7 linked regions of the Homo sapiens genome follow. The protein of the gene in region 1 purifies or fractionates together with the protein of each later gene. This does not show direct contact. Each region holds a gene or a part of one and is shown in the gene's direction. Other genes may lie near its edges.

The links.
Region 2: the proteins of NGEF (region 1) and LRPAP1 purify together in Homo sapiens (affinity purification with mass spectrometry, with the first as the bait; one large-scale study listed by BioGRID). This does not show direct contact.
Region 3: the proteins of NGEF (region 1) and DDX42 purify together in Homo sapiens (affinity purification with mass spectrometry, with the first as the bait; one large-scale study listed by BioGRID). This does not show direct contact.
Region 4: the proteins of NGEF (region 1) and ZNF326 purify together in Homo sapiens (affinity purification with mass spectrometry, with the first as the bait; one large-scale study listed by BioGRID). This does not show direct contact.
Region 5: the proteins of NGEF (region 1) and TPX2 purify together in Homo sapiens (affinity purification with mass spectrometry, with the first as the bait; one large-scale study listed by BioGRID). This does not show direct contact.
Region 6: the proteins of NGEF (region 1) and SFXN1 purify together in Homo sapiens (affinity purification with mass spectrometry, with the first as the bait; one large-scale study listed by BioGRID). This does not show direct contact.
Region 7: the proteins of NGEF (region 1) and CMAS purify together in Homo sapiens (affinity purification with mass spectrometry; one large-scale study listed by BioGRID and IntAct). This does not show direct contact.

Annotation. Positions count from the first base shown.
Region 1 is NC_000002.12:232,894,757-232,898,256, reverse strand, and holds part of NGEF (ephexin-1), read left to right. Parts: intron 1-3,340; coding exon 3,341-3,500. UniProt on the Homo sapiens protein: Acts as a guanine nucleotide exchange factor (GEF) which differentially activates the GTPases RHOA, RAC1 and CDC42. Plays a role in axon guidance regulating ephrin-induced growth cone collapse and dendritic spine morphogenesis.
Region 2 is NC_000004.12:3,503,112-3,505,767, reverse strand, and holds the end of LRPAP1 (alpha-2-macroglobulin receptor-associated protein precursor), read left to right. Parts: 3' UTR 1-2,156; downstream 2,157-2,656. UniProt on the Homo sapiens protein: Molecular chaperone for LDL receptor-related proteins that may regulate their ligand binding activity along the secretory pathway.
Region 3 is NC_000017.11:63,777,170-63,780,669, forward strand, and holds part of DDX42 (ATP-dependent RNA helicase DDX42), read left to right. Parts: intron 1-3,500. UniProt on the Homo sapiens protein: ATP-dependent RNA helicase that binds to partially double-stranded RNAs (dsRNAs) in order to unwind RNA secondary structures. Unwinding is promoted in the presence of single-strand binding proteins.
Region 4 is NC_000001.11:90,008,610-90,012,109, forward strand, and holds part of ZNF326 (DBIRD complex subunit ZNF326), read left to right. Parts: intron 1-1,478; coding exon 1,479-1,677; intron 1,678-3,500. UniProt on the Homo sapiens protein: Core component of the DBIRD complex, a multiprotein complex that acts at the interface between core mRNP particles and RNA polymerase II (RNAPII) and integrates transcript elongation with the regulation of alternative splicing: the DBIRD complex affects local transcript elongation rates and alternative splicing of a large set of exons embedded in (A + T)-rich DNA regions.
Region 5 is NC_000020.11:31,794,790-31,798,289, forward strand, and holds part of TPX2 (targeting protein for Xklp2), read left to right. Parts: intron 1-2,614; coding exon 2,615-2,726; intron 2,727-3,500. UniProt on the Homo sapiens protein: Spindle assembly factor required for normal assembly of mitotic spindles. Required for normal assembly of microtubules during apoptosis. Required for chromatin and/or kinetochore dependent microtubule nucleation.
Region 6 is NC_000005.10:175,513,060-175,516,559, forward strand, and holds part of SFXN1 (sideroflexin-1), read left to right. Parts: intron 1-403; coding exon 404-531; coding exon of another isoform or gene 532-536; exon of another isoform or gene 537-677; intron 678-3,500. UniProt on the Homo sapiens protein: Amino acid transporter importing serine, an essential substrate of the mitochondrial branch of the one-carbon pathway, into mitochondria.
Region 7 is NC_000012.12:22,052,718-22,056,217, forward strand, and holds part of CMAS (N-acylneuraminate cytidylyltransferase), read left to right. Parts: intron 1-2,431; coding exon 2,432-2,574; intron 2,575-2,737; coding exon 2,738-2,893; intron 2,894-3,500. UniProt on the Homo sapiens protein: Catalyzes the activation of N-acetylneuraminic acid (NeuNAc) to cytidine 5'-monophosphate N-acetylneuraminic acid (CMP-NeuNAc), a substrate required for the addition of sialic acid.

The DNA of each region.
Region 1 (3,500 bases):
TGCTTTTCTGTGATGTGGCGCTGTGGGCATGGGGGTTTTCCCCTTGGTATCATTCGTATCAGTTTTGTGAGTTATGTTTGCTTGGAACTTGTGAGCTGTAACTGCTTCACATTTTCTTAGGAAACTTAAATTTAGCAGCAGGAAAATGAATTCATAACAGCATCTGTAGCTGAGAAGCTTCTGGGAAACTGGCTGCCCGTCATAGCCTCACTTTTGTGTCGGTGGACACTGGCCGACTCGGGGTCTGCTGCCAGTCAGCGCTGGGCTGCAGGTCTGCTGCTGTGAGGCCCGCTGCTGTGTGCTTGCTGTGGCTGCTTTTTAGGTAGATGAGGCAGATGCGACGTGGGGATGGCCACGGAGAGGCCACAGGCTCATTTCAGCGTCTCGTCTCTGACCGTCGCTGTCTCAAGTGAGGTGCTGCTGTGTGCTTGCTGTGGCTGCTTTTTAGGTAGATGAGGCAGATGCGACGTGGGGATGGCCACGGAGAGGCCACAGGCTCATTTCAGCGTCTCATCTCTGACTGTCACTGTCTCAAGTGAGGTGCAGACACTGGGGGCCGGGTGGGCCCTGGCTACTGATGGTGGTTCGGGGTCTGCAGTTGGCCGCTGGCCCTGGAGTGACATCAATGTGAACTCTCTGTGGGGTGTTCCCAGCTTCCAGATTCGTCCCTTATTTTAGAGTGCTCTGCCAGGTGGGTGGGTGGGCAGAGCTTTGCAGGGAAGCAGCAGTGAGAGCTCCTGCAGGCGGGCATCAAATGCCCAGCAAACCCCTGCGCTACCTGGGAGGTGGCAGCATCTCCACTCCTCCAGCATCCAGCCATGTGACTTTCTGGATGCAACTTCACTTCTCTGTGTCTGTTTCCTTTTGGTAAAATGGGAGCTTCTGTCTGTCCTTTCTGGGGGACCTGGGAGGATTAAGTGAAACAGCCTGCAAAACCCCACCACTCCAGGGCCCACTGTGTTCTGGGAACAAATGCCTCTAACCCTGGAGCTCCTGCTTTCATGCCAAAGCCCTGGGCCCTGGGTCAGGGCTCTGATGAGTGGAGAAACCGGAGGGCGGCCCTAAAAGGAGTGAGGCAGGGGATGGGCAGGACCCTGGGGAAGGGGCCAGACCCCCACCTCCACCCCCTACCCCATCCCTACCCTCACCCCTTCCCCCACCCCATCCCAACCCTCACCCCTCACCCCACCCCTACTCCCACCCTTACCCCTAACCTCACCCCCACTCCTACCCCCACACTCGCCCCTACCCTCACCCGCACCCCTACCTCACCCTTAACCCCACCACTACCCCCATCCTCACCTGTACCCTCACCCTCACCCCTACCCTCACCTCATCCCTACCTTTACCCTTACCCCCACCCTCACACCTACCCACACCCTCACCCCTATACCCACCGTCACCCTCACCCCCACCCTCAACCCTACCCTCACCCTTACCCCTACCCTCACCCCTACCTTCACCCTCACCCCTACCTTCACCCACGCCCCTAACCTCACCCTCACCCCTACCTTCACCCTCACCCCTACTTTTGCACTCACCCCTACCCCCACCCCTACCCCCACCCCCATCCCTACCCCCACCCCCACCCCTACCCCCACCCCAACCCCTACCCTCACCCCCACTCCTACCCTCAACCCCAACCTTACCCTCACACCCCTACCCTCACCCTCACCCCTACCTTCACCCTCACCCCTACCCCACCCTCACCCCTACCCTCACCCCCACCCTCACCCTTACCCCAGGCTCCTCACTGCTCTGTTTCCACCCCTCCTCTGTGGCCATAACAAATTACCAGAAACTGGGTGGCAGAGGATCACAGGATTGATTCTCCCACAGCCTGGGCAGGCTGTGCTCCCTCTGACAGCTCTGCAGAGGATCCTTCTGGCCAACTCCAACTGCTGGTGGCTGTATCAGTCCCATCTCTGTCTGTGCCTTCTCTGTGTGTCTGTGTCACATTATTAAATCTCCCTTGGCCTCTTTTATAAAGACACCCATTATTGGTTTGGGGCCAACCTTAACCCAGGATGATCTCATCTTGAGCTCCTTGACTCAATTATGTCTGCACAGACCCTTTTCCCAAATAAGGTCCCATTCACAGGTGCTGGGGTTAGGACATGGATGTAGCTTCTGTGGGGGCCACAGTTCAACCCACTCTGCTGTCCCTCCTGGGAAGCGACTGTGGGACCTGAACCCGCCCTAAGTATCAGAGGGTGACGGGGAAGAGGAAGGTGGGTCATTGGGTTGATTTGTAAACAAGGGAGGAAGGTGAGCCGGGATCTGCCACCTGCCCTTACAGAATGACCCATGAGATGCAGAACTGCTGTTAGATCCTAGTCAGCTATTCAGAGGCTCAGCAATCAGGTGATAATCATGACATCGAATAAAGGCACCTCCAGAAAATTGATCAGGTTATGGATTTCTTTCTCTCTTCCAAAATGAAAATCACCTTATTGGTTCCATTATAAAATCAGACCATGATATATGTTCATTGTTAAATTATCAGGCGATTCAAAAGGTAAAAAGGTAAACATCCCCCCAGATTCCACCCGTGACACTCGTGCTTGACACTGGCCGGTTTCCCCTGACGCTTTTCTGCTGGGCGTGGAGGAACAGGATTCCTCCCACCTGCTGACTTTCGCACCCACTAGCACACCCAGAGCATGGGCCAAGCCACCCTTGGCAGCTGTGCGGGCTCAGGTGTGTGGCTGACCTTTTTTTTTTTTTTTTAAGACAGAGTCTCACTCTGTCACCCAGGCTGGAGTGCAGTGGCGTGATCTGGGCTCACTGCAACCTCTGCCTCCCAGGTTCAAGTGATTCTCATGCCTCAGCCTCCCAAGCAGCTAGGATTACAGGCATGTGCTACCACACCCAGCTAAGTTTTGTATTTTTAGTAGAGACAGGGTTTTACCATGTTGGCCAGGGTGGTCTTGAACTCCTGACCTCAAGTGATCTGCCCGCCTCGGCCTCCTAAAGTGCTGGGATTACAAGAGTGAGTCACCACGCCCAGCCTGACCTCTCTCGTTTTTGTCTTGTTTCATATTTTGGATCTTAGGCTATCTCCAGTTGTCAGTATGGTAAGTGTTCTCTCACAGGGAGTAGCCTCCGTGCCCTGTCACCTTAGGGGTAGTGTGCTCCCTAGGAAGAGTGGCCTCACTACCATTCCCGGCCGCAGGTGTTACCAGCTGCCCCTGCAGCAGCCATCCCAGGCCCCAGGAGCAGGCGATTTTTCCCTTTCAACTCCCTGCTGAGCCTCCCTCTGCTCCTCTGTCTCAGCCAAGGCTAGCGCCTTCGTGGAAGGCCAACTTCAGGCGGTAACCATGGGGTCTCCCTGCTACAGGCCATGTTCGAGCTGGTCACTTCCGAGGCGTCCTACTACAAGAGTCTGAACCTGCTCGTGTCCCACTTCATGGAGAACGAGCGGATAAGGAAGATCCTGCACCCGTCCGAGGCGCACATCCTCTTCTCCAACGTCCTGGACGTGCTGGCTGTCAGTGAGC
Region 2 (2,656 bases), on another chromosome or scaffold:
GGTGGTGGTATAGACGGTCTTGGGGTAGCTGGTATAGACGGTCTTGGCGTAGCTGGTATAGACGGTCTTGGGGTAGCTGGTATAGACGGTCTTGGGGTAGCTGGTATAGACGGTCTTGGGGTAGCTGGTATAGACGGGCTTGGGGTAGCTGGTAGTGGTGCTCAGGAGGCGTGTGGGCTGCTGGTGCAGCTGGAAGCGCACCTCAGCCATGGTGTTGTGCCAGGTGTGGTTGGGGATGCAGGGGACGTTCCGGCCGCAGGAGGCCCCTGCCAGGCACAGGCAGCTGCGCGGTGTGGAAGAAGTGCCGCTCGGAGTCATGCTTGACAAGGAAGTACACCTTACTCCTCTCAGTGGTGAGGGGTCAAACCACTCCTTCCCAGCGATGGGGCCAGCAGCCTGGCGAGGGCTAGGCACCGGGGAGGGATGCTGGATTTGGAGCTGGGGGGAAGGGGTCACCCTGCATTGGGCTCCAGTGCTCCGGGTGCCATGCCTGCTCCCCCACCACTGCCACCGCAGCCGCTGCGGGACACCAGGGGCTGGGGCTGAAGAGCAGCCTCGAGCTGGGCTGTCCAGGACACGGTCGCCCTTCTTCCTCGTGTCCGTGAGCTCAGGCACAACCTGCAGCTTAGCCAGCCCACTATGGCTGCGTGCGTGGCAGGACCCGGGCCACCATGGCTGCGTGCATGGTAGGGCACATGATTATTTTAGCCTCTGGTATCACTAACCATCCCTAAAGTCTCCAATGGTCTGTTCCTGTCTTTCCCTCTGGTTCACTTGTGGGGTCATGTTGTCTTCTGTTCTTTGTTATTTATTTTTTTCTTGAGACGGAGTCTTGCTCTGTCGCCCAGGCTGGAGTGCGTTGGTGCGATCTCGGCTCACTGCAACCTCTGCCTCCCAGGTTCATGCGATTCCCCTGCCTCAGCCTCCCAAGTAGCTGGGATTATGGGCACCTGCCACCATACCCAGCTAATTTTTCTGTGTGTGTGTGTGTTTTGTTTTTTGGTTTTTTTTTTTTTTTTTTTGAGATGGAATCTCAATTGCTCAGGCTGCAGTGCAATGGCGCAATCTTGGCTCACTGCAACCTCCACCTCCTGGGTTCAAGAAATTCTCCTGCCTCAGCCTCGCAAGTAGCTGGGATTACAGGCCCCTACCACCACAGTGGGCTAATGTTTGTATTTTTAGTAGAGACAGGGTTTCACCATGTTGGCCAGGCTGGTCTCGAACTCCTGACCTCAGGCAATCCGCCCACCTCGGCCTCCCAAAGTGCTGGGATTGTAGGCATGAGCCACCATGCCTGGCCTAATTTTTCTGTTTTTAGTAGAGACAGGACTTCACCATGTTGGCCAGGCTGGTCTCAAATTCCTGACCTCAAGTGATGTGCCCACCTCGGCTGCCCAAAGTGCTGGGATTACAGGCATGAGCTTCTGTGCCCGGCCTGAACTGTTAAGTGTTTGTGAAGAATTATTTGGGGGCCTATTTGAGAGCTGTTATATGGATCATCCTCCTGGAGAGGGTTCTTAAGCCTCTGAGACCGGGTTTGGGGCTGAGGCTTTCTGACCCACACAAGTCATGCTGACCCCTGAAGGGCCGCAGGCCAGATCTTGCCAGGTGAGCACTTTCCCCGCTCACATTCAGGATAGGGCGAGGGGGTTGGTACCGATTCACCCTCAGGGCCTAGATTTGGGGGCTTCAGCTTGCTGCAGATAGGTGCTCCCTTCACTCTCACCTGAGGCTGGGCTGGAGCCTGGTGTCTGCCCCACCCTGCTGGTCAGCCCCCTAGGACCTGAGCCCCGTAAGCCTGGACTGGCCACGCCCTGGGGCAGCAGCACTGGGTGCTTGGCGCTCACGACCTTCCTGGGCCCCTGGGTCCCTCACTTCTCCCTTGTTTCTACCTTCCTGGCTTGTCAGATTCCCACAGCTCTTAAGGAGAAATTCAGTATTTACTGCAGCATGTGTTTTCAGTGTGATGGTTCATCTAGGTACCCTAGCCTGTCATTGCTGGAGTTGGAAATCTCTGTTGTCTGCTGTTGTTTTGTGAAACAAGCGCGTGAGGTTATAAGTTTCCCTCAACGTACCACACTAACCACATTTCCCTAAGTTTTGATGTGTAGTGTTTTCACTGCCATTCAGTTCAAAATATTTTCTCATTTCAAGTATGATGTCTTCTTTGATCCATGTGTATTTTTAAGTTGCTAAGTGTACTTACTTTGGCCGGGCATGGTGGCTTACGCATGTAATCCCAACACTTTAGGAAACTGCGGGGGGGAAGGATCACTTGAACGCAGGAGGCTGAGGCTGCACGTCACAGGGAGAGACGGGCCGCGGTGATGTACGAGCTTCCTGTTGATAGGCAGTTAAGTTGGTTCGGGATAACGTGGCCTGCCTGGCACGGGTATTCCCAGAGTCACAGATGCTCACCCGTGCCAGCGTTGGCTGCTTGGGACATGGGGACGGCGAGGTCCCCACACCCCACATGTGAGCTGCTGGTAGCTGGGCTGAGCCCAGGTCCCATCCGTGTGTGGGGCGTGAGTGTGCGGTGCCATCGGGTCTGCACGGGCCTCGCCTCGTCCCGGACGCTCCAGGCTTCCTGTGGCACGGGTGCCGAGAGGGACCAGCCTGGGCCTGCTGAACCGAGGGGGTGGTCTAGGGCAGAGGC
Region 3 (3,500 bases), on another chromosome or scaffold:
AAGGGCGAGGATTACAGGTGTGAGCCACCTTGCCCAGCCAGCCATAGGATTTAGTGCCTAGAACCATACCAAATAGGACTTGATGCCATCTTGACTGTTTCTCTTCAGCCTAGTTGTAGATCTCCTTTAGTCTTTTACATATTGAATAAATGAGTATCTAATATTGAAAACATGCTATAAGAGAAAAGTGAATAAGCCTGTTTCTTCAGCCATGAATCCTATAATACGGAGTTGGACTGGAAAGGGAGTTTGAGGAAGGAGATGCCATTTCTTTTTCTTTCTTTTTTTTTTTTTTTGAGACGGAGTCTCACTCTGTCGCCCAGGCTGGAGTGCAGTGGCGCGATCTTGGCTCACTGCAAGCTCCGTCTCCCGGGTTCAAGTGATTCTCCTGCCTCAGCCTCCGGAGTAGCTGGGACTACAGGTGCCCACCACCACGCCTGGCTAATTTTTTTGTATCTTTAATAGAGATGGGGTTTCAGCATGTTAGCCAGGATTGTCTCGATCTCCTGACTTCGTGATCCACCCGTCTCGGCCTCCCAAAGTGCTGAGATTACAGGCGTGAGCCACCGTGCCCAGCCAGGAGATGCCATTTCTTTGGGGATATCATATTCATGTCTTTAGGAGTTGGTATTTGAGATATGCTTTGAAGGATAGGACTTTGGTAGGTACTCACAGTTTATAGGAAAGAGATTTGATGTGAAGGGGATCCAGTTAGAGGGAAGAGGATTCACTAGAGTGCTTGTTTTCCTGGAAAACTGAGTACGTGTGGAGAGACCCTGGGAAATATGAATGGTAAAGTAGTTTGATGCCACAATGGAGGGTCTCATTCCAGCATGATTAACTGTGGAGAGCTATGGAATTGAGGAGAGTGACATAATCAGAAATGTGTGTTCTGGAAGAACCTGGAAAGGGTTTTCGATAAGCATCTGAATACTGACCTCCCTTCTGTGAGACTTTTTCTGGTTCCACGGTATTAACACACACTATGCTACTCTACCAAAGGAGGTAAAACTTGCTTTTCTCTTTTCACTGTGTGTCTCACTATTACTTCATCATTTTATGCTTTACTAAACAGAATCACTTCTCATAGACTATGGAAGATTTGCTGGTTTTAGATGAAGCATCTGGATGTACATCCACATTACTTTTCCAATAAAACAGACATTCTTGGGACAGTAGTCAGGGGAGGATTACCTGTCAAATGTCATTCATCTCAGAGAGGCCTTGCCTGACTTAAGTCTGCAATAGCTTGCCTCTTACCCTCTTGCTTGCTTTTCATAGCACTTTTGCTACCTGGAATTACATGATTTAGTTTTTCTTTCTCCTGGGCCAGACTGTGAACTCTGAGTATGGCTGCATCTGATTCCATTACTGTATCCTTAGCACCTTAGAGCAGTTACTGGCACAAAATAGGCACTCAGTATATTTTGACTTAGTGATCACTCTAGTAGTGCTGTGAGAGCTTGATAATAAAGTTTTTTTTTTTTTTAAGACAGCATCTCGCTCTGTTATCCAGGCTGGAGTGCAGTGGCACGATCTCGGCTCACTGCAGCCTCCGTGTCCTGGGTTCAAGAGATTCTCCTGCCTCAGCCTCCTAAGTAGCTGGAACTATGGGTGCGCGCCATCACGCCTGGCTAATTTTTGTATTTTTAGTAGAGATGGGGTTTCACCATGTTGGCCAGGATGGTCTTGATCTCCTGACCTTGTGATCCGTCCACCTCGGCCTCCCAATAATCAGAAATTTTTTTTTAGGAAATAATTGCAATAGTGGAGGTGGAGATGGAAAGGCGGGTATACGTGAGGGATGTCCCTCATAGTACTGGGCACATAACAAAATCATCAGTGGTTATTGGTCAGTATAAAACAATGGATGTTATTACTAAGAACCACTTAGGGTTGTTCTTTTTTAAACAAATACTCATTAAACTTTGTTTATGGCTCTATTCAGCTAATTCTTTTCAAATTAGGTATTTCAAAAGGGTTCTTTTTTAAATTTTTATTTTTTGGCACCCCAGCAGGAAATGAAGAAATCTTTTTTAAGAGAAAAAATACAAAAATGCAGTTGAATTTCCCCAAGTGTGTTTTTTTTGTTTGTTTTGGTTTTGTTTTTTTGAGACGCAGTCTCACTCTGTCACCCAGGCTGGAGTGCATTGGCATGATCTCGGCCCACTGCAACCTCCGACTCCTGGGTTCAGGCCATCCTCCCACCTCAACCTCCCGAGTAGCTGGGGCTACAGGTGCACACCACCACACCTGGGTAATTTTTGTATTTTTTGTAGAAATCAGGTCTTTCATTGTTGTCCAGGCTGACCTCTAACTCCTGAGCTCGAGCCATCCTCCTGCCTTGGCTTCCCAAAGTGCTGGGACTGCAGTTGTGAGCCACTGTGCCCACCTCATTTTGTTTTCTTCTTTTGGTACTATCACCACAATCTAGCCACAGGACACTTTTCATCTTGTAAAACTGAAATTCTGTACCCATTAAACAATAACACCCTATTCTCCCCTCCTCGCAGCCCCTGGCAACCACTCTTCTACTCTGTGTCTCTGAGTTTGACTATTCTAGGTATCTCTTTTTTTTTTCTTTTTGTTTTCTTTGTAGAGATGGGGTCTCGCTGTGTTGCCCAGGCTGGTCTCAAACTCCTGGCCTCAAGCCATCCTCCTGCTTCCCAGAGTACTGGGAATATAGGCGTAAGCCACTGCATCTGCCTCTTTTATTTTTTTAGTAACCAAATAGAAATTTGGGTGGCTATCTTTTGCTTCTTCTGTCAGCTATACTCCCACAAATCTCTGTGATTGTCAAGGTTCAGTAACCATATACACTACATGGTTTAATAGTAGGAAAAACTGCCGGGCACGGTGGCTCACGCCTGTAATCCCAGCACTTTGGGAGGCCAAGGCAGGCAGATCACCGGCGGTCGGGAGTTTGAGACCAGCCTGACCAACATGGAGAAACCCCATCTCTCCTAAAAATACAAAATTAGCCAGGCGTGGTGGCACATGCCTGTAATTCCAGCTACTTGGGAGGCTGAGGCAGGAGAATCACTTCAACCTGGGAGGCGGAGGTTGTGGTGAGCTGAGATTGCGCCATTGCACTCCAGCCTGGGCAACAAGAGCGAAACTGTCTCAAAAAAACAAAAAAAAAAAAAAGTAGGAAAAACTGTTGTCAAGAGACTTAAGTAATGATCCATTGAGGATGATCTGGCTTAGATTTAATCAGGAAGGGTGGTTAGCTAGATAACAAGGTTTGTAGTAATAAAATAGAGTTTTCATAAATACTGGGATGAATTTTGGAGAGCCTGAATACATTACATTTATTCATACAGCAAAATTTTTTGAGTACTATGCAGACACCAAGGATATAGTGCTGGACAAATTGAGTCAAGTCTATGCCCTCATAGAGCTAACATTCTACTCAGGGTATATAGAAAGCACAGTTCCTTGGCCTTCCTAGAGTCAGTAATTGAGGGACAATGAGCTGTGTGTTCTAGATGAGCTAGGGA
Region 4 (3,500 bases), on another chromosome or scaffold:
CATTTAAAGAGTATTGTATTTTTGTTATAATGTAAGAATCCTTTTAAGTCAGCTGCTCTTAATATTTTATTTGCAGAGGAAAGTATTTCTAGTAAAAAAGGTAGTAGGGTACACGTTTTTGACTGGTTATTAGCTTTTGATATGTCAGTGTAGCTTGTTATACTTGTGTAGAAATTTTGCATTTTTAACAGTTACTCTTTACTTATGTAAAAATGCATTGCACCTTTAATGCGTAATTAAGGAAGATTTTCCTGTTGTGACTTTTTAAATTACCTGGAAACACAACTAGGTTAGATAGGCATTCCTGAGCATAGTATACAAATGTAAGCAACTGATACATTACAGTTCCACTATACTTCATGATCATAGGTTAATTGAAAATAGTTGGGATGATAGGCTTTGGGTTTTGAATTGAAAATCCATTCTAGTTTGAAAATTTGGAAAACACTTAATATTTTCCATGCTGTATATTATTTTAGACAAAGTGTGTTTTCTTAATGAGGCTTCAAAAGTAAATTTCGTTTTCATAATAAACAAGTATTCCTGTACTTTGTATTTACCATTCTAGTCTGAATGGACTTTTCTTTCTTTCCTCCTGTTAGTGAAGTAGATGAGCCAATAGGACCTACATTTTAAATCTTCACTTGTACAATTCCCCTTGGGTCCTTCTCTTCAGATTACTCCTCCATCTTTATCTTCTAAAAGTAAGATTAGCAGAATAAATTTCTGTGGACATGTGGCCTCTTGGTGTAGTAGATTTGGATAATGACAAGAGAAGAGGAAGGGACACAAAGAGTCGTTTGGTTGCATGACTCTTCATCTGTAAACTTTTGTTTCTTGGGCTTCTGGGTCAGAAAATGTTTCTCTAGGTAAGAATGTGAATGGAACGTCAGATGCAATTCTTTATCTGAAGTGTGTCTTGGAAGTTGATGCATGGTTATGCTTTAACTCTCCTATTTCATACTAATGTTCCATCTCGCCTTCTCATTCCCTTTTTCAACAGGGAGAATACTAAATGATTTCTGGATCTTTTTTACTTCAAACTACAAATATGGTCTTCTTTGTGTATCTTAGTTTTAGTAAAATAAAGATTTCTTTTAGGGTCTTTTCATGGGAAAACATCAATTAGGAACTCTGAAGAGGAGTTGTCAGAGAGTTGTACAAGTGGTAACATTTGGACAGGCACATATGTTGTCTATAATCTCAAGTAATTTTGAAATGTAAAAGTAAAAACATAGTTAGCAAATATTCATTATTTGTTCTACTGGAAATAAAAATACTAATTCAATGGATTTGAGTTTATGTAATAATTTACAGAGTTTTTCAATGTGTTTTTTCAGAATGGACATGTAAAATTTAGTTACATTCCAGGGAATTTTCAGGTGAAAATTAGTAGATAGTTAACATGAAAATTTTATATGAATTCATATTTTTTCTTGGACAATATGCTAATATTTATTGATTTCACAAATTTACAGCATATGGGTGATTTTGGAAGCATTCATAGACCCGGAATTGTTGTTGACTATCAAAACAAATCCACCAATGTGACAGTTGCTGCTGCAAGAGGAATAAAGAGAAAAATGATGCAGCCATTTAATAAGCCCAGTGGAACCTTTATCAAGAAACCCAAACTAGCAAAACCTATGGAGAAGATAAGCCTCAGCAAATCACCCAGTAAGTAAGAAAACATAATTGCTATGATTCAGGATACTTTTTATTTTTTAAAATTCCATACTTTTTGGTAATTTTTTCATGTTTATATACAGAAACTACATAACAATTATGATTGTAGAAGTTAGATCTGTAAATCCCCTATTGCAGTTAATAATTGGTCATGAATACCCAAAGATACTTTTAAAATGTACATAACCTGGTCCATTCCTTTTTCCTGAATCCTTGTGGTTGTGTATCAAACCCTCTACAGCTGAGAAAACAGGCACAGAATAGATAAATAATTTGCTGCCTAAGTCAAACAACCAGTGAATGGTAATGCCAGTATTTATTCCAGAGCAAGTCATGCTCTAGAAGTCCTGTTCTTAAACCTCCATATGATTGTAACAGAAATTTGCTTTGTATTCATTTTTCCCTTTTATTTTAAAATAACTTTTTCCCTAATTATGACATTATAGACATTTTAATATGTAATATTTGAAAAAACTGAAATTGCAATGTTAGATTCTTTCCTCAAAATATATTTTCTATAATATAAAATTTGAAAAAGGTTTAAAAGGTGTACTTAAATTACTTTCTCATCAGGCCTTATTGTTTAATAAGAAACAATATTCTGGAATTTCTGGAGTTCTGGAAACCTGATACTAAGCAGAGTATGTGTTGTGGGGATACCTTTAACAGTGTGTCAATTGATAGACTGTTATGTATCAAATTTGACATTTTATTAGACATTACTATAATAGAAAATTCAGTTGATTCTCTTGGGACCTATTTCAAAGATATATTTTGCACGTATGGTTAAATATTGCAAAAGTTTGATAAAGAAACTGATTTGCCCTTAAAGCAGATATATATGTATCCCTCCCCCATACCCCCTTTTTATATAACAAAACTTGAGAAAAGTGTTGTGTAGCTAAGAATGAAACTAAAATTCTTTAAATTATGCCTTCTCTGTCAGGTGTAAAATGGGCATTTAAAAAGATGATTGCTGAATTTTCCTCAATACAAGGTCTTGCTATGCTATAGTATAGACTATGTGACTTTATAGAAAATTAGTAGGAAAGGAACCCTATTCTGTCACTTGGCTAGAAGTACAACATGTCATAGTTTTAGCATATGAAAGGAAGATTAAATTACTTATTTGAGGTAATATATAAATAAGTAGATTTTTCAAAGGCCATCCAAAAGGATAAGCAGTGCATAAAAGGAAAAATTTAAGGGCAAATAGTTAAGTTTTTTTTTTTTTTTTTTTTTTAAGTATAAAGTTAAATGTATTATAAGAAAGAACCTGCTCACAGTGAGTTACCACTCCATACCCACTTGGATGGTCATAATAAAAAAAGGAAAATAACAAATGTTGACAAGGATATGGAGAAATTGAAACCCTCACACATTACTGATGGGAATGTAAAGCAGTGAAGCCACTGTGGGAAGCAGATTGGTGCTTCCTGAAACAATTAAACATAGACTGTCCATATGATCCAGCAATTCCACTTCTAGGTATTCTTCTATTCCAAAGAATTTAAAGTAGTATTCCAACAAAAATTTATTTATTTATTTATTTTTATTTTTGAGACAGGATCTTACTCTGTTGCCCAGGCTGGAGTGCAGTGGTGCAGTCTTGGCTCACTGCAACCTCTGCCCCTGGGTTCAAGCGATTCTCGTTCCTCAGCCTCCTGAGTAGCTGGGACTACAGATGTGCACCACCACGCCCAGCTAATTGTTGTATCTTGAGTAGAGATGGTTTCGCCATGTTGGCCAGGCTGTCTTGAACCCCTGGCCTCAAGTGATCCATCCGCCTCAGCCTTCCAAAGTGCTAAGATTAC
Region 5 (3,500 bases), on another chromosome or scaffold:
GTATGTGTGTGTGTACGCACACATTTTGTTGTTGTTGTTGTTGTTTTTTGAGACAGAGCCTTGCTGTGTTGCCCAGGCTGGAGTGCAGTGGCACAATCTCGGCTCACTGCAAGCTCCGCCTCCTGGGTTCACGCCAGTCTCCTGCCTCAGCCTCCTGAGTAGCTGGGACTACAGACGCCCACCACCAAGCCTGGCTAATTTTTTTATATTTTTAGTAGGGATGGGGTTTCACCGTGTTAGCCAGGATGGTCTCAATTTCCTGACCTCGTGATCTGTCCGCCTCGGCTTCCCGAAGTGCTGGGATTACAGGTGTGAGCCACCACACCCAGCTACATGTTTTCAACTCTTTTTTTGTTTGGTTTGAGACAGAGTGTCGCTCTGTCACCCAGGCTGGAGTGCAGTAGTGCGATCTCGGCTCACTGCAACCTCCGTCTCCCAGGTTCAAGTGATTCTCCCACCTCAGCCTCCCGAGTAGCTGGGATTACAGGCGCGTGCCACCACGCCCAGCTAATTTTTGTGTTTTTAGTAGAGACAAGGTTTTGCCATGTTGGCCAGGCTGGTCTCAAACTCCTGATCTCAAGTGATCTGCCCACCGTGGCCTCCCAAAGTGCTGGGATTACAAGCATGAGCTGCTGTGCCCAATCAACTCTTTAAAAATGTAAAAACCATTCTTAGCTCAAGCGCTGTCCTAAAACAGGTTGCAAGCTGGATTTGGCCTGTAGGCCAGAGTTTGCTGACCCCTGCTCTAAGTGATCACCTGGGAATGTCCCCTGCTCCAAGTGATCACCCGGGGAATGTGGGAACCGACAGGCTTTTCTGGAGTTGGGAGTTTCTTTAAGATCTTATCTATTCCATCTATTAGACTCATTCATTGTGTTTATTCCTTTCTGTTGATGCATTGGTAAGAAACAGTATGGGAGAATAGATTGAAATATACAATGCTGTTTTCTCAGCATGATGTGCTATTTGCTCTTTATAAATGACAGGTGATTTAAAACAATTAATTGGTTATTTGCTGATTTAATTGGGATCTAATTCTACGTGGCTGGAAAAAATTTCCCCTGAATTTCTAAGTTTTTTGGATTTTTATGTCATCATTAATCTTGGATTCTTTCCAAAAGGAGCTCTAGGCTATTGTTTGTTTGTAGGAATTACCCCTCCTGAAGCCCGAGAGTTGTAATGGCTTACATGACTGAACGTTGGTCCCCTGTTAGTGTGGTTCTCTAAGAAACCTTAGGACTGTTGCCTTGGAAATAGTGAATTTTCCCCTCTCAATGACCAAGACACAGAATGTCTGTGTAGGGCATTTTCTGCAAAGAACAACAACAAAAACAATTGTTTTAAAAAGCTTTTCAGAAATATAAAAGTAGGGTGAATAGTATAATGAATTTTCATGAACCCATCACCTGGTTCTATAGTGATCAAAACATGAAAAGTCTTGTTTCATCCCAACTTCTACCCACTTATCTTACACTGGATACTTCTACCTGTGTAAGATTACTTTGAAACAAATTCTATGTAACATCCCTTTTCATCCAAAAATACTTCAGTGTATATATTTAAAATATAAAGACTTATAACCACAATAATATTCTCACACTTAAAAAGATTAAAAATAATCAAATATCTGCACATTTCTCATAATTTTTTAAACAGTTGAATTGTTAAAATCAATATCCATATATAGTCTACATAGTGCCTTTGTTTGCTAAATCTCCGAATCTTCTTTCAATCTATAGGCTCCTCTCTTTGCATTTTATTTGTTGAATAAACTGGATTGTTTGTACTGTAGATTTTCCACAATCTGGATTTTGCTGATTGCGTTCCCACACAGTTGTCTAACATGTTCCTCTGTTGCTTGTATTTCCTATAAATGAGTAGTAAGATCTGGAGGCTTGATTCAATTCTGGTTAGATTTTTTTTTTTTTTTGGAGGTGGGAAGAATACTTTATAGGTGATACTGTATAGTTCCTAATGAATCATGTGTGAAGGCAGAAAATGTCTAGTTGTTTATTTTTATGATATAAAGATAGGTCTTAAAAGTACCTTTAAAATTTTTTGTTTTTTTTAATTGACAAATAATAGTTGTACATATTCTTGGGGTACATAGTGATGTTTCAATATGTATAATGTGTAATGATCTGATCAGGGTAATTAGCATATCCATAATCTCAAACATTTATCATTTCTTTGTGTTTGGAATCTTTTTTTTTTTAATTTAAAAGTAAACTTTAGCACACCAACATGGCACATGTATACATATGTAACAAACCTGCACATTGTGCACATGTACCCTAAAACTTAAAGTATAATAATAAGAAAAATAAATGTGAACATAAACTAAAAAGAAAAAAAAAAGTAAACTTTAATGTCGAAAATGCAAACTTGGGAATCTTAAAAGTATCTTAAAAATGCTTTCTAGTTCTCAGTGAGTTCAAATGTTGTCAGACTGATCTGTTCATTGTAAAGTTTGTGTGAAAGATTTTTACTAGGGTTTATATTAAATCTGCTATTTTTATTGATGAAGCAGTTCAGACATTAGAACTTAAGTTATTGAGGTAGTGGTCATAGAAAGGTGAGACATTGCTCATCTGACTGACTTTCTCTCTAATAGCTGGAAGAAGAACTGAGACAGCAGAAAGAAGCAGCTTGTTTCAAGGCTCGTCCAAACACCGTCATCTCTCAGGAGCCCTTTGTTCCCAAGAAAGAGAAGAAATCAGTTGCTGGTAGTATTATATGTACTCTGATGGGACTCGGGCAGAATTGTCAGACTTCCCAGTGGGATGCTGGAATTCAGTGTGTCAGTACAATGCTGTGTCAACTAGAAGCATTTGACTTTAGCAGATGGTAGCTTTTCTTCCCCTAGACCCAGTTTTTTGCCTTTATTGAACCCAGCAGCTATGTTGAGTTGCAGGATGTGTTAGGGCCAGATTCATTTAACATGAACCTTGGCAGAAGCAGCTGGCATTTCAACAACAATGATAGGTTTTCCCCATCCACAGAGAAACAAGTAAATGAGGGAGGGAGAGCCAGTATGGCTTTCTGGAATTCACCCTGAAGCAAACTTTAGATATAAAACATTTGATTCCTTAAACACTGGGCAGTGTGCTAGAATACTGGGATTCCACCGGGTGTGGTGGCTCATGCCTGTAGTCCCAGCACTTTGGGAGGCCCGGACAGGAGGATCACTTGAGCCCAGGGATTTGAGACCAGCATGGGCAACATAGCAAGACCCCATCTCTTTTTCAAAAAAATCTTTCCAAAAAGGGAAAAAAAGAATATTGGGATCTTTCTTCTATGTCTGCCTCAAAATCAATCACTATATAGTTTTGTGCAAGCTACTTTATGTCTTTGCCTTTTTCCCAATTACACCAGACGATTTCCAGGGGCCCTTTGAACTCTTAAAATTCTAAAACTTTTTGTATTTAGTTGGCTCTACCTTTCTCCCAATGGGGCTTGTTTAGAGCACAGTCTTCCTGTTAGTGTGCATGTCTGTGCCA
Region 6 (3,500 bases), on another chromosome or scaffold:
GGAGGCCGAGGCGAGTGGATCACCTGAGGTCAGGAGTTCAAGACCAGCCTGGCCAACATGGCAAAACCCCGTCTCTACTAAAAATACAAAAATTGGCCGGCACACTGTCACATGCCTGTAATTCTAGCTACTCGGGAGGCTGAGGCAGGAGAATCGCTTTGAACCCGGGAGGCAGAGGTTGCAGTCAGTGGAGATAGCCACCACTACACTCCAGCCTGGGCAACAGAGTGAGACTGTAAAAAAAAAAAAAAAAAAAAAAAAAAAACAGATGTGTCAGTACCAAAAATGACACTTGAGTGGGTATTTGAATTAAGTAGAGGGTTGATCTTTCCCAACATAGTACTATTTCAGGACGTTTATTGAAGGCATTGGTGGAGCTCTCTGTATGTGTTTTGCTCTGCAGGGAACTCAAAGTTGGCATTCCCGTCACGGATGAGAATGGGAACCGCTTGGGGGAGTCGGCGAACGCTGCGAAACAAGCCATCACGCAAGTTGTCGTGTCCAGGATTCTCATGGCAGCCCCTGGCATGGGTTAGCAGGACTTTGTCATTTATTCCATAAATACAGGTTGAACCAGCGTTCACGGATCCGTGAACCAGAAAACAAACACATATATCACACCTCTTAGTGGAAATTGCCTTCCACTGGGGGTGGCAGAAAATAAACAAGTAAATAAAGTATGTAGTATGTGCAGTGGTGATGAGGGCAAGGGGGCAATGGGGCTAGGGCGTGTGGGTAGGGCAGCCGGGGAAGAGCACTGGGTGGAGGTGTGGGAGTGAGCCAAGTGGGTATCGGTGATGAATATTCTGGCAGAGGGAACCACAGGCAGGAGTTTGCCTGGTGTGTTACAGGCATTACGGGTGCAGGTGCAGCTGGGGCACAGTGGGAGGGGTGGGGAGCAGTAGGAAGGGAGTCAGGAGGCCACAGACGGCAGAGCGTGGATGGCAGCCCTGGCGTTTCACACCTGGGTTTTAGTCTGAGAGGTAAGAAGCCAGGCAGGGTTTTGCATACAGGAGCAGCACAGTCTGACTTAGGTTTTATCTGTGTGACTCTGGGTGGTGGGTTGAGAATAGGCTGAAGGAGAATGAGAATATTCAGTGGAGGCTGTGCGGGGAGGCTGCCTCAGTAATCCAGGCAAGAGGCAGTGATGGGCTGGACCAGGGCCATACAGTGGGAATTTGACCAGAAGGAACTGATGGAGCAAATTGGAATGGTTAGAGCAGCTACTGATAAAATGTGTGCCAAGCAACTGCTCAGGTTTCCCTATAGGGACTGGGGTCAGAATGACCAAAAATAGAAAGTCTACATTGTATTTAGTTCTGCTGAGAATCTCTAGTCCACCCTAAGGCTGCTTAGAGCTACCTTCAGACCAGGGGCCTAAAGAAAGTTCTCAGACTGAGAAATCAGAGGGCCTGGCAGTTAGAGTGCTCTTCACAGAAAAAAAACAGAAATTAGTATGTTTAATTTTCATCATCTAAACTGAATGCAAACAGCGCTTGGCAATTAAAATGAAGCTCTCCAATGAAGTATACTTCATCAGCTGCTGTCAAGTCATCCATTGATACTGTTTTGCGGTTTTTAAATTCCTTTTGTCACTGTGACTGCTCATCAGCAGGCAAGGAAGAGCAGGCAACAAAAGTTGAAAAGTGCATGAAGGAAAACTTTGAGGAATATGATATTCACATTCCAGCAAATTGGGGGAAAACTGCTATTATCTGGTTTAACACAGGAGTGCCTTGGTGCCCTGCCTGAGGCTAATGTGTTCTGTAGGGGTGGCTGCACAGCCACAGTCCTGAAACATGGGAAAGCATCTCCTGAGTCCAGGGACCAGCACGTTTGTCACTAACCTAAAAGGAGGCTATGGAGCCCACCCCGGTGTTCCTACTGAGCCCTGATTTCCAGATTTGCTGAAATCGAGGTTGCGGCTCCAGCTTCTGCCCTGGGTTTGGTTTGTTGTTGTCGTCGTTGTTTTTGAGACAGGATATTGCCCTGTCCCTCAGGCTGGAGTGCAGTTGCTGTGATCATGGCTCACTGCAGCCTCAACTTCCCTGAGCTCAGGTGATCCTCCTACCTCAGCTTCCCCAGTAGCTGGGACTACAGGCGTGCGCCACCACACCCAGCTGATTTTTGTATATTTTGTAGAAACAGGGTTTTGGTATGTTGCCCAATTAGTCTAGAACTCCTGGGCTCAAATGATCCACCCACCCCGAATGCTAGGTATACAGTTGTGAACCACCATGTCCGGCCCTGGGTTTGCTTTTGATTGTGGTCTTTTCTGTTTTGAATTGCCTTACTCCTCTTAGAGTTCAGCCAGTCCAGACGGACAAATCCATTTCTAGTGATTTGGTTATTTTAAACACTATTTAGTCCCCAGAGAAGAAATACAATCTTTCTGTCCTAGTGCAATTTATAAGAGTAATTGACATATTGAAATAGTGGATATGACAGTTTAGCCTGATAAAAGTTGTCAGCAAATGAACGAATGCTGTCCACCGCATACCCAGTGTTTTACATGCAGTATTGTCTCCAATTTCCTCCATTTTATAGAAAAAGAAAACAGAAAGCTGAGGCTCAGAGAAGTTAGGTAACTTCTCCAGGGTCACCCAGCTAGCAAGTGGTCTAGCCCAGCGGTCCCAAACCTTTTTAGCACCAGGGACCCATTTCATGGAAGACAATTTTTTCATGGACCAGGGGTCAGGGGGATGGTTTCAGGATGATTCAAGCACGTTAAATGTATTGTGTACTTTAGTTCTATTATTATTACATTGTAACATATAATGAAATAATTAGACAAGTCACCATCATGTTGAATCAGTGGGAGCCCTGAGCTTGTTTTCCTGCAGCTAGACAGTCCCGTCTGGGGGTGATGGGAGACAGTGACAGATCATCAGGCACTAGATTCTCATAAGGAGCGGGCAACCTAGATCCCTTGTATGTGCAGTTCTCAATGGAGTTCAGGCTCCTGTGAGAATGTAATGCGGTCGCTGACCTGACAGGAGGCAGAGCTCAGGCGTAATGCAAGCAATGGGGAGCAGCTGTAAATACAGCTAAAGCTTCATTCACTTGCCCACTGCCCTCCTCCTGCTGGGCAGCCCTATTCCTAACAGGCCAGAGATCCATACCAGTCCATGGCCCAGGGGTTGGGGCCCCTGGTCTAGCCTGTACGGAAGCAGTTTCTGCCTGACTCCAAGGCAGGATTCTTTACACCATCCTCCCTGCCTTGTGCCCTTTGTTTTATTAATATAGGAAGAAAAAGTTCCTGATATTTTTATTTTTGTCTACTTAAACCTAAAAGTAAAGTTCTTTTCAAGATTATAAAACTTTCTGGCTGGCAGAGGATGTGATATTACTGTTCAAAAATTTAGAAAATCAGAACAGTTTTCAATCTAATGAATTCAAATGTAATAATTTAAAGAATTGCTACAAACTGTTTTTACTGTGACAGTGGAAATAGCCTAAAAGTGACAGAAGCTTTCTGTCAAATGGTTGAAAAAAAAAGT
Region 7 (3,500 bases), on another chromosome or scaffold:
ACTATTTCAGATTTCAAGATGGAGGAAAATGGGGGCTCCTGCGTTCGCCCTGCATAGAGTGACATAAGTAGATATCACGGGATTCTTGACCCCTAGCCAGTGGCTCATCTTGTTTGCTAGGCTTTCTTTGATTATTTTTTCTTACTGACTTTATCCCTTGATTTAAATCCCTCTATAAATATTAAAGGGAATAAACGAAATAAATAAATGAAATCCAGGGATGTTAGAAGATTTTCTTTAGTTTTTCACTTTCTTTCCACTCATGATAATTGAGCATAGACAAACATGCAGTTCAGCCGAGCGTGGTGGCTTACACCTGTAATCCTAGCATTTTGGGAGGCTGAGGTGGGAGGGTCACTTGAGGTCAGGAGTTTGAGACCATCCTGGCCAACATGGCAAAACCCCATCTTTACTAAAAATTGGTCGGGCGTGGTGACACATGCCTGTAATCTAATCCCAGCTACTCAGGAGCCTAAGGCATGAGAATCGCTTGAACCTGGGAGGTGGAGGTTGCAGTGAGCAGATAATGGGCCACTGTACTCCAGCCTGGGTGACAGAGCAAGACTCTGTCAAAAAAACAAACAAAACATGCAGTTCATCTTTCCCTCAGTAGATATCGAAAGAGTGGGATAAAAGGAAAAATATATATGTGTGTGTGTATATGTATACATATACACACACACATATACACATTATATATACACATTATATATACACGTTATATATAATTTTGTATGTATATAAAATAATGTGTATATATGTTTGTGTGTGTATATATATATATACACACCAAATATATATATATATATACACACACATACACCAAAGACTATAAGTCATTAAGATATCTTTGCATAAATCACTATTAAAACATGGTGGGGGCCGGGCACGGTGGCTCACGCCTGTAATCCTAGCACTTTGGGAGGCCGAGACGGGCGGATCACGAGGTCAGGAGATCGAGACCATCTTGGCTAACACGGTGAAACCCCGTTTCTACTAAAAATACAAAAAATTAGCCGGGCGTGTTGGCGGGCGCCTGTAGTCCCAGCTACTTGGGAGGCTGAGGCAGGAGAATGGCATGAACCTGGGAGGCGGAGCTTGCAGTGAGCCGAGATCGCGCCACTGCACTCCAACCTGGGAGACACAGCGAGACTCCGTCTCAAAACAAAACAAAACAAAACAAAAAAACATGGCAGGGTTTTGTTGTTGTTTTTTGTCTTTTTTTTTGAGACAGGGTCTCGCTGTGTCTCTCAGGCTGGAGTGCAGTGGCGCGATCTCGGCTCACTGCAACCTCTGCCTCCCAGGTTCAAGCGATCCTCCTGTCTCAGCCTCCCTAGTAGCTGGGATTACAGGTGTGCATCACCATGCCCAGCTAATTTTTGTATGTTTAGTAGAGTCCGGGTTTCACCGTGTTGGCCAGGCTGGTCTCCATCTCGTGACCTCAGGTGATCCACCCGCCTCGGCTTCCCAAAGTGTTGGGATTACAGGTGTGAGACTCCAGGCCTGACCAAACATTGTGGCTAGAGTAGTATTTACATCTTCTGCATTTAGCAGTGGGAATTTGTGACTGTCCAGGAAACAAAACTTCAATAGAAACTGGTACCCCTCTCCAAAACAGCATTTTGCCTACTCATCATTTTGTAAAGGCTAAATAGGCAACTGTGTAACCTGCGGTTAATAGAGTATTAAGTTAAATTCTTTTGAGCTAATGAAGTCATGTTCTTCATGTTTGTTGTTATCAATGGCTATAACCCAGCTGATTCTACATCTATATACCCATTGTTTGTTGTTTAAAAAAGAAAGAGTTGTTTCATCTGATTTTTTTTGAGCCCAGACTTGGGCATTTATTATCTTCTAAGCTTGAAACTGTTTCACCTTTAGGGTTTGGCTAAGCCAAGTCCATTTTTTTTTTTTTAGCAAGCATATTAAAATATTTTATACAATATTTTGGATTTGGATGGAGAATAAGCAAGATCTTTAATTTTCTTTAGATTTGACTTCTAGTGCCTTTTTAAAAACGTTTATTTTAGGTTCAGGGGTACATCAGGCTTGTTACAGAGGTAAGTTGCATGTTGCAGGGGTTCGGTGTACAGATTATTTCGTCATTCAGGTAGTAAGCATAGTACCTGATAGGTAGTTTTTTGATCCTCACCCTCCTCCCACCCTCTACCCTCAAGTAGGCCCCAGTGTCTGTTGTTCCTTTCTTTATATAAAGCATATCTAGGACTGCATTTTTATTCATTAATATATTTATATACAAAATACTTTATAATTTCTTACATTTTATACTCCTTTGGATCTGTAACATTATTATCATTGTGCAAAAAATATTCTCACATTATATAAGCTGTATTTTATGGTTACAGAGCTCCATTTTATTGTTAATGATTTCTTTTGATTTGGCTGTTAATTTCTTTTGATATCTGAACAGTGTATGGGTTTCGACAGACCATGATGAAATTGAGAATGTGGCCAAACAATTTGGTGCACAAGTTCATCGAAGAAGTTCTGAAGTTTCAAAAGACAGCTCTACCTCACTAGATGCCATCATAGAATTTCTTAATTATCATAATGGTATGAATTTGATTAATAGTTTATTCAAACCTTTATGTACTTTTCTACTTCCTTTATTATCTTATAAGACTTGTTTTAACATTTGAATTCCAAACCTTAATATTACTTGCTTGCAAGGAACTTTTTTTTTAAATATCCTTTTCATTTCTCTTGTCTTTTTAAGAGGTTGACATTGTAGGAAATATTCAAGCTACTTCTCCATGTTTACATCCTACTGATCTTCAAAAAGTTGCAGAAATGATTCGAGAAGAAGGATATGATTCTGTTTTCTCTGTTGTGAGACGCCATCAGTTTCGATGGAGTGAAATTCAGAAAGGAGGTAATCTCTTTTCAGTCTTTATTTTAGCTGATTTTATTGAGAATCAATTTTTTTGTATATAAATATCCTTTAGGCATGAGGAGAGTAAAAGGGGAGCTGTAAAAGAGAGTATTTGACTCATTACTTTAGTAGGTAATGACATTTACAATCAGCTGTAAATCTGTTATCGAGCCAACACAGCTAGACCAAATTAATTCTTTGCTTTACTCTTTACAAAGGGACATTCTAATCCTCTTATTTCTGTTTGCCTTTTGAGGCAGATATGCTGTTTTTCTAGATCAAATACTTTTATGTTTGTTCTAGACATGTTTGATGAACTCCATACAAGTCATATAGAGATAGAAAGCATCCACCAAAGTGTTCTGAAGGATTTCAAGAATGACATTTTGAAGTTCTTCCCCAAATTCCTAACTCCATATATAAGAAGGGTTCCCTAGGGTTTACTAGGCATTTTGCCTGCCATGTCCAGTGTGCTATAAATCTTATCCAGAGAATTATTATAAACACTGTGTTTTTCCATTCAGTAATGTACATTTTAGTTGTTTCGTAGGGATTCCATTTTCTGTTGAAATTTTCCATTTTTTTATCCATTTTAAAAAAAGGTCAT